2 linked regions of the Homo sapiens genome follow. The protein of the gene in region 1 purifies or fractionates together with the protein of each later gene. This does not show direct contact. Each region holds a gene or a part of one and is shown in the gene's direction. Other genes may lie near its edges.

The links.
Region 2: the proteins of RIPK4 (region 1) and COX20 purify together in Homo sapiens (affinity purification with mass spectrometry, with the first as the bait; one large-scale study listed by BioGRID). This does not show direct contact.

Annotation. Positions count from the first base shown.
Region 1 is NC_000021.9:41,756,779-41,760,822, reverse strand, and holds part of RIPK4 (receptor-interacting serine/threonine-protein kinase 4), read left to right. Parts: intron 1-4,006; coding exon 4,007-4,044.
Region 2 is NC_000001.11:244,842,108-244,845,829, forward strand, and holds the end of COX20 (cytochrome c oxidase assembly protein COX20, mitochondrial), read left to right. Parts: intron 1-87; coding exon 88-151; intron 152-933; coding exon 934-1,069; 3' UTR 1,070-2,950; downstream 2,951-3,722. UniProt on the Homo sapiens protein: Essential for the assembly of the mitochondrial respiratory chain complex IV (CIV), also known as cytochrome c oxidase.

The DNA of each region.
Region 1 (4,044 bases):
CCAGTGGGATTCTTTGCTCCTTGAGTGTATTCAGACACACTCGACCTGCCCACCCCCCACACCCCCCAGCTGCTCCTCCTGGGGTGCTCCCGCGTCCACCGTAGAGAGCTGCCTAGTGACCCCTGGTGCAGCTCCAGAGAGGTCCTGCAAGCTTCTCCCCTCCACATGCAGTCAATGGACCCATCCTGCAGATTCTTCCAACAGAGTGTGTGTGCTCTGCTGGCTTCCCCTCTCTGCTTTGCCAAGCCCAAGGGGATCCACAGCGACTGCTCCGCTCTGCTGGCCTCCCGGGTGCCCCTGGACTCTGCGCAGGTCTCAGCCTTCCCGATTCTCTCAGGGGCCCTTTCCTATGCTGACTTCTGACTTTGGATCTCTCTTGATTCTCCATAGCTCCCTGGACCTTCCTTTCAAGAGGCTTAGATTTTTCAACCACACTTCTCTTTTGGGGGTAGTTCGCCATCTTCTTCCTTAGAGGGTACACGTAAACACCATGAAGGCGGGAAAGGGACCTCTTGTCCTTAGTTCTGACATATGGTGGATTCAAGCGAGCACTTGCCAATACACAGAACTGCTTAAAATATAGGTCAGGTGAGTGCTGGGAATACTGAAGTGGTGATTCTGGACAGTAGTAGTTTATTGGCTGAAAATGCACTCACTTGATTTACATCGGGGTTATTCAACTTGGCACCGTTGGCATTTGGGGCTGAGTAATTCTTAGCCTTGGGGCTGTCTTATGCATTGTAGGATGTTCAGTAGCATCCTTTAGTTGTGACAGCCAGAATCTCTCCAGACATTGCCCAGTGTTTCTTGGGGGGTGAAGTTGCCTCTAATTGAGAACCAGTGGGCTATGTCCTGAGACGCAGAGCCCTAGCTGCAGGGCTTGCATTGTTGGGGGGCAGACAGGCTGAGATCTCCGAGCCTTTGGTACCTGTCCGATGTATGGGAATTTCCACAGCAAGAGCTAAACAGTAGGATCCAGGGGTTCCTGCTGGCCTTTCCTGCAGGGAAAGTGTTTTCACTATGGTAAGGGAAGCCTAGGAGGGGCTGAACTCTCGCAGGGGCGGTCAGATCATTAAGAAATGGATGCGTTCTGTTGGCACTGTTTTGGATTCACCAGCAGGCGAGGAAATGGGAGCCACTGAGTGATTTCCCAGCACCTGCTCCCGGGTTTGTCACTGGGAGGAGCAGGCCTGTGTCCGAGCTCCAGAAGAGCCCCCTGCTGTGGCAGCGGACACTGGGTTATAGGCAGGGACTTGGGCTGGACGCTGGATTCTGGGGGAATTGTCTGGAGGCCACCCCAGCCAGCTGCCTTGCGTGGCCTGTGTGTGGACATGGAGCTGCTGGGTTTCCTGCTATAGGAGGTCGGATCTCTCCTAGTGTGGTTCTGAACATTTCCTTTAGGGAGCTTATTATATTATTAGAAAGCAGATTGGCTGGGCACGGTGACTCATGCCTGTAATCCTAGCACTTTGGGAGCTGAGGCAGGCAAATCACTTGAGCCTAGGAGTTCAAGACCACCCTGGCAAACAGCAAAATCCCATCTTTACTAAAAATACAAAAAATTAGCTGAGTGTGGCACACCTGTAATCCCAGCTACCCTGGAGGCTGAGGCATGAGACTCACTTGAACCTGGGAGGTAGAGGTTGCAGTGAGCTAGGATCATGCCACTGCACTCCAGCCTGGGCAACAGAGCGAGACTCTGTTTCAAAAAAGAAAAACAAACAAAAAAACAGATTTTCCAGCCCCAACCTGGAATGCATTCTCAAGGAGTGAGGCCTGGGAACCAGCATTCCAGCCAGCTTCCTGGGTGCTTTCTACCATGTCTGTGTTTGGGGCTGCTGATCTCGATCCTGCATGGCCAGCGTGCGTCCGTGGGATTCAGCCTCTTACTCTGAACGCATTCTGAGACTTTTGACCCATGATGCCAATACAGACCATTGCACTGGGATTCTAGTCTGTGAAAACACAGGCTGCACCAGGGAAGTGACCTTAGACCAGAGGTTGGTCAGCTTTCTCCACGAAGGCCTAGAGAGGCAACATTTTAGGCTTTGCAGGCCGCAGGGCCTCTGTTGCAAGGACTCCTCTCCCCTTTGAAGTGCAAAAGCAGCCACAGCCAGTGTTTAAATGAATGAGTGAGACTTTCTTCCAGTAAAAGTTTATTTATACAAACAAGGTGGTGGCACGCTGTGGGCAACCATTTGGCAGTTTCTCAAAATGTGACACATAGACTGTGACCAAGCAATTCTGCTCCTAGGTATGTATCGAAAAGAATTGAAAGCCACGACTCCAGGCGTTTGTCCCCCAATGTGTGCAGATGTGCAGCATTATCCACGAGAGCCAAAAGGTGGAAATGGCCTGCACCCACGAACAGATGAACAAAACGCAGTACATTCGTGCAGCAGAATATTATTCAGCCATGAAAAGGAAGTTTTGATATATGTTACAGTGTGAATAGACCCTGAAAACATGCTTAATGAAATAAGCCAGACACAGAAGGGCAAATTTTATATGCTTATGCTTATATGAATTTGCCTAGAATGTAGAAAAGAGGTTACTGAGGATGGGGATGAGGGAAGGAGTTATTGGTTAATGGGTGCAGAATTTTTGTTGAGGATGATGGAAAAGTTTTGGGTGTAGATAGTGGTGATGGTTGTACCACATTGTGAATGTGGGTAATGTCAGGGAATTGTACACCTGTGAATGGCTAAAATAATAAATACTATGTTATGTCTATTTGACTACATTTTCTCTCTCTCTCTCTCTCTCTCTCTCTCTCTCTCTATATATATATATATATATATTTTTTTTTTTTTTTTTTTTTTTTGTTATGGAGTCTCTCTGTGTCGCCCAGGCTGGAGTGCAATGGCGCGATCTCGGCTCACTGTAACCTCCGCCTCCCAGGTTCAAGTGATTCTCCTGTTTCAGCCTCCTGAGTAGCTGGGATTACAGGCAGGCGCCACCACGCCCAGCTAATTTTTGTATTTTTCGTAGAGACAGGGTTTCACCATGTTGATCAGGCTGGTCTCGAACTCCTGACCTTGTGATCTGCCTGTTTCGGCCTCCCAAAGTGCTGGGATTACAGGCATGAGCCATCACACCCGGCCTATATTTTTTATTTTAAAAAATGGCTGGTTGGATTTGGCTGTTGGCAACCCCATGCTTTGGACCTATGCTGTTTCATTAGTTTGAGTGTGAGGTTGGATTCAGGAATAACTGGGCCAACTCAGGTATTGGGCTTAAACGGAGAAGGTGAGTTGGGTTCCTTGAACATAACTAGTTACAACTTTTTTTTTTTTTTTTTGAGATGGAGTTTTACTTTGTTGCCCAGGCTGGAGTGCAGTGGCATGATTTCAGCTCACTGCAACCTCTGCCTCCCTGGTTCAAGTGATTTTCCTGCCTCAGCCTCCTGAGTAGCTGGGATTATAAGCATCTGCCACCATGCCCGGCTAATTTTTGTATTTTTAGTAGAGACGGGGGTTCCACTATGTTGGCCAGGCTGGTCTCGAACTCCTGACCTCAGGTGATCCATCCGCCTTGGCCTGTCAAAGTGCTGGGATTACAGGCATGAGCCACCGTGCCCGGCCTAGTTGCCTAGTTACAACCTTGAGTGGAACGTCAACTTCTCTTCCCTCCTCCCAGGAGAAGGGATTATCGGCCTGCACCTGCAGTCTCTGAGACCCCCAAGCCTTGGCTCATGGCTGCCTGTGGAATTATTCACACACGTGGACCCCCCACATGTGTTATCAGTGCTACCTGTAAAACGATTAGAATTTCCCTCCTCCTCACTTGTGATAACCCTGTGATGCATAGGTACATTTCAGCAGCCTCAGGACTGAGACTCTGGAAAGCCCTGCATTCGTGATGTGACATTGAAGTGTGCCCCATGTGTGTGCACTTGAGGCATTTGCTCAGCCCTCTGGAGCTGGTCGTCTTCTGGCCAGGGTGCTGTTCCATGTTTGTGGCTGAGTGACCATTGCGTATTCTTCATGCCTTTGAACTTTTTCAGGGAGCGCATGGAGCTTTTGGAAGAAGCCAAGAAGATGG
Region 2 (3,722 bases), on another chromosome or scaffold:
CTACATAATGAACTATTTTTTTTTCTAGGTGGAGTAATGTATATAACGTAATTATATTCTAATTAATTGTTATGCTTATTTTTACAGGTAGAATTAGAAGATCATGTGATGTTGGAGTAGGAGGGTTTATCTTGGTGACTTTGGGATGCTGGTATGTTTGCTAAGTATTCAAGAACATCCATGATTATAGTAGGTTATCTAATTCAAAAAGCACATGCTCTTTTCAGAGCAGTCTCCCATTGGGAGATCCTCACCCTCAATGAAGAATCTTGATTTTTCAGGACATTTTCATGGAAATCTTAAAATGCTTGAACAGATAAATGCATATTAGACATCCCATTAAAAAGAAAGCTGTGGTTTTTACACTTCACTTAGGAAAGCCTCAACCATTTCCCTTACCCTAATACTTATTTCATCCCTGCTTATTCATATCTGAAAATGCTACTTTAAGAATGTGTTTACAACTACTGATGAGTGAATATAAAATATGGATGAACCTCAAATATTTGCCAGACCTAAGAGTATGATATGTATGTACTATATGGTTCCATTTATACATGAATTTCTACAGTGAGCTATTTAAGGTGGTAGAAATCATTTTATGTAGACATAGCATTATTATCCCGTTAAAAACGAGAGCAAATACTTGTTTCTTATAATAGCCAATGCTATCAGAAGACTTAAAAACTAATGGATTTTATCACTTTACAAATTGTTATGTAGACATCCTTTTTTTCCTAATAAAAAAAGAATGTGTTGATAGGTATTCTGACACCAAAACTGCCCAAAAATAGCACTATAAATTAGAACATATTTTTCAGTCTCAGGGTAGTAGTCATCTGTATTTAAGTTTTGTGTGATTTAGAGAAATTTCATAAATTAATTTCTGTAGGACTTTATATTAACAATTTATTCATATTCTTTTCTTCTAAGGTTTCATTGTAGGTATAATTATGCAAAGCAAAGAATCCAGGAAAGAATTGCCAGAGAAGAAATTAAAAAGAAGATATTATATGAAGGTACCCACCTCGATCCTGAAAGAAAACACAACGGCAGCAGCAGCAATTGAACAATCTTGAGCATAGAAGTCAATGTAAACGAAGTTAAGATCAACCACATAAAACATTTCATGTGCAATAAGCTCTCAATCAAGTAAATAAAGTTTAAGTTGTAGTCATTTTTTTCCCACACTTGTGTGGAATGAAAACTTGCCAGTTTATTCTGGCCCTGTGTCTACTGCCAGGATAGCATTCTTACGTGTTACATATAGTGGACTTGTCATCCTTAAAATGTGAACAGAATTTATTGGCAGTGTGGCAAAGAATTATAAAACATAGTGTTTAATGTACTTGGAGTTTCCTTGTAGTAGTAAGTATAGAGTTTGATGATAAGTAAACGTCCCTTAACAAAAACCTCAACCTTATTACTATCCCATTAAAAAACAGCAAATACTTACTGAGTTCTTGTAAGAGCTAATGTCATTGTAAGATTTAAAACTAAGGGCTTTTATCACTTTGCAAATTATTTTTTAAATGCATTCATCATTTGACAGTGTTCTCTCATTTCTTAAAATGCGAGTCATCTTCCAAAAGAGTTGTTTTTAACTGCCCTAAACATTTTTGGGGAAGTATGCAGGGTTTAAATTTTTAAGTATAATTAGTTCTGAATTAAAATATGCACATGGAACTTGTCTGGCAGACTGATGCAATAGTAAAACAACTGCAGAATTACTATTAATGTAAACAATCCATTTGAAAGTCAATCAGCTGCTCCCATTAAAATATTATTTAAAATACAATACCCACAGCATCTAACTAAATCCTCAGGATTTATTCTCCGGGAGAAATTATCCCTTTCTAGGAAAATGAAGTTATTTCTGGTTTTAATTCATACAATACTTTAAGAAAATCTGTTAAATATAACAAAACACAAGCTAGATGCTTAAGAAATGCTTAAAGAAATATTGGGGCGAAGGTAACAGCAGTCAACAGGATTGTGGCCATTACTGGTCCTATTATTTTGATGTACCATGGAAGGCACAGAAATCGAGCAAGGAAGAAAATATTAGTTATTTTGATCTACATCTTTTTCTAAAGAAAAGTGGAGCTTGCCTCCAGTTCAATTCACAAGAGCATTTTCCCTCCCATGCCCACCTTTTCTTGTGGCTGTCGCTAGGAAGGATGCAGAGGCTGTGTGGTTTACCAAATGCCTTAACTTAGCAGTGAATGACAACTGTCAAACACATGTTGAGGGAAAATTTTTACTGATTCACAAAAAGGAAGACAGTTTGCCCACTCTTAGTGGCACAAATCAAAGCTGCATGCACTACATTATCCAAATTAGTCGTAACCAAATAGTTAAAAAATTCTGCTGGGCACGGTGGCTCATACCTGTAATCCCAGCACTTTGGGAGGCCGAGGCAGTTGGATCACCTGAGGTTAGGAGTTTGAGACCAGCCTGGCCAACAGGGTGAAACCCTGTCTCGTCTAAAAATACAAAAATTAGCCGGGCGTGGTGGTGCATGCCTGTAGTCCCAGGTACTCAGGAGGCTGAGGCAGGAGAATCACTTGAACCCGAGGTGGGGCAGGCGGAGGTTGCAGTAAGCCAAGATCGCGCCATTGCACTCTAGCCTAGGTGACAGAGTGAGACTCCATCTCAAAAAAAAAAAAAAATTCCATAGGATGTTCAACCATGTTTTCAGAGGCCGCACTGCATGAATGCGGGAAAATGTTGATGATCACTAATCAATAATCTGATATTTAACAAAATATGGACAGGCCACTTATGCTCAGTTTTACCTTAGTTATTCCTTGGTATCCACAGGCCCAAGTCCCTTTAAATAAAATACCCTCATATTTCCATATAATCTACATACATTCTCCCATATACTTTAAATCATCTCTAGATTACTTATAATGTCTAATACAAAATAAATGCTATGTAAATGTAATTATTATACTGTGTATTTTTGTTGTTGTTCTTCATTGTTATTTTTTGTCTTTTTACCTCCAGTATTTTCAACCCACAGTTGGTTGAATCCAAGGATGCAGAACTGGAGGACATGGAGGGCTGACGTGTAACATACATAACATATAAAACAGGTCCCTTCCAGCGCTAGCACACTGCAATTACATCTTACCCTGAATAAGAGAGAAACTCTGTTTTGGCTGGTAAAATTTCCAATGTCTTCACCAATAACAAAGCTCATTTTCACAGAAGTTTGCATAAACTGGAAACCTGGATAAAAACAAAGTTGTAACATATTTGGTTGGATTATTTTTTAAATGTTTCATGTATTTACATGATCACTAATAATTTTTATTCTTATGCTATTAAGATTTTACAAGTGTATTAATAAATTACCAAAGTCTGTAACACCCACCCTCAATAAGGAGAGACTGGTAGAACGAAAGTCTCTCCTATCAATGTCTACCCTACCATCCAACTTCACGTCCAAACTATTTAGTTTTTTGCCAAACCTTCAATGCACTATGACCTTTTTTTTTTCTCTCTTGAGATGGAGTTTCACTCTCGTCGCCCAGGCTGGAGTACAATGGCGTGATCTCGGCTCACTGTAACCTCCACCTCCCAGGTTCAAGCGATTCTCCTGCCTCAGCCCCCCAAGTAGCTGGGATTGCAGGTGCGTGCCACCACGTCTGGCTAATTTTTGTATTTTTAGTAGAGAGGGTTTCACCATGTTGGCCAGGCTGGTCTCGAACTCC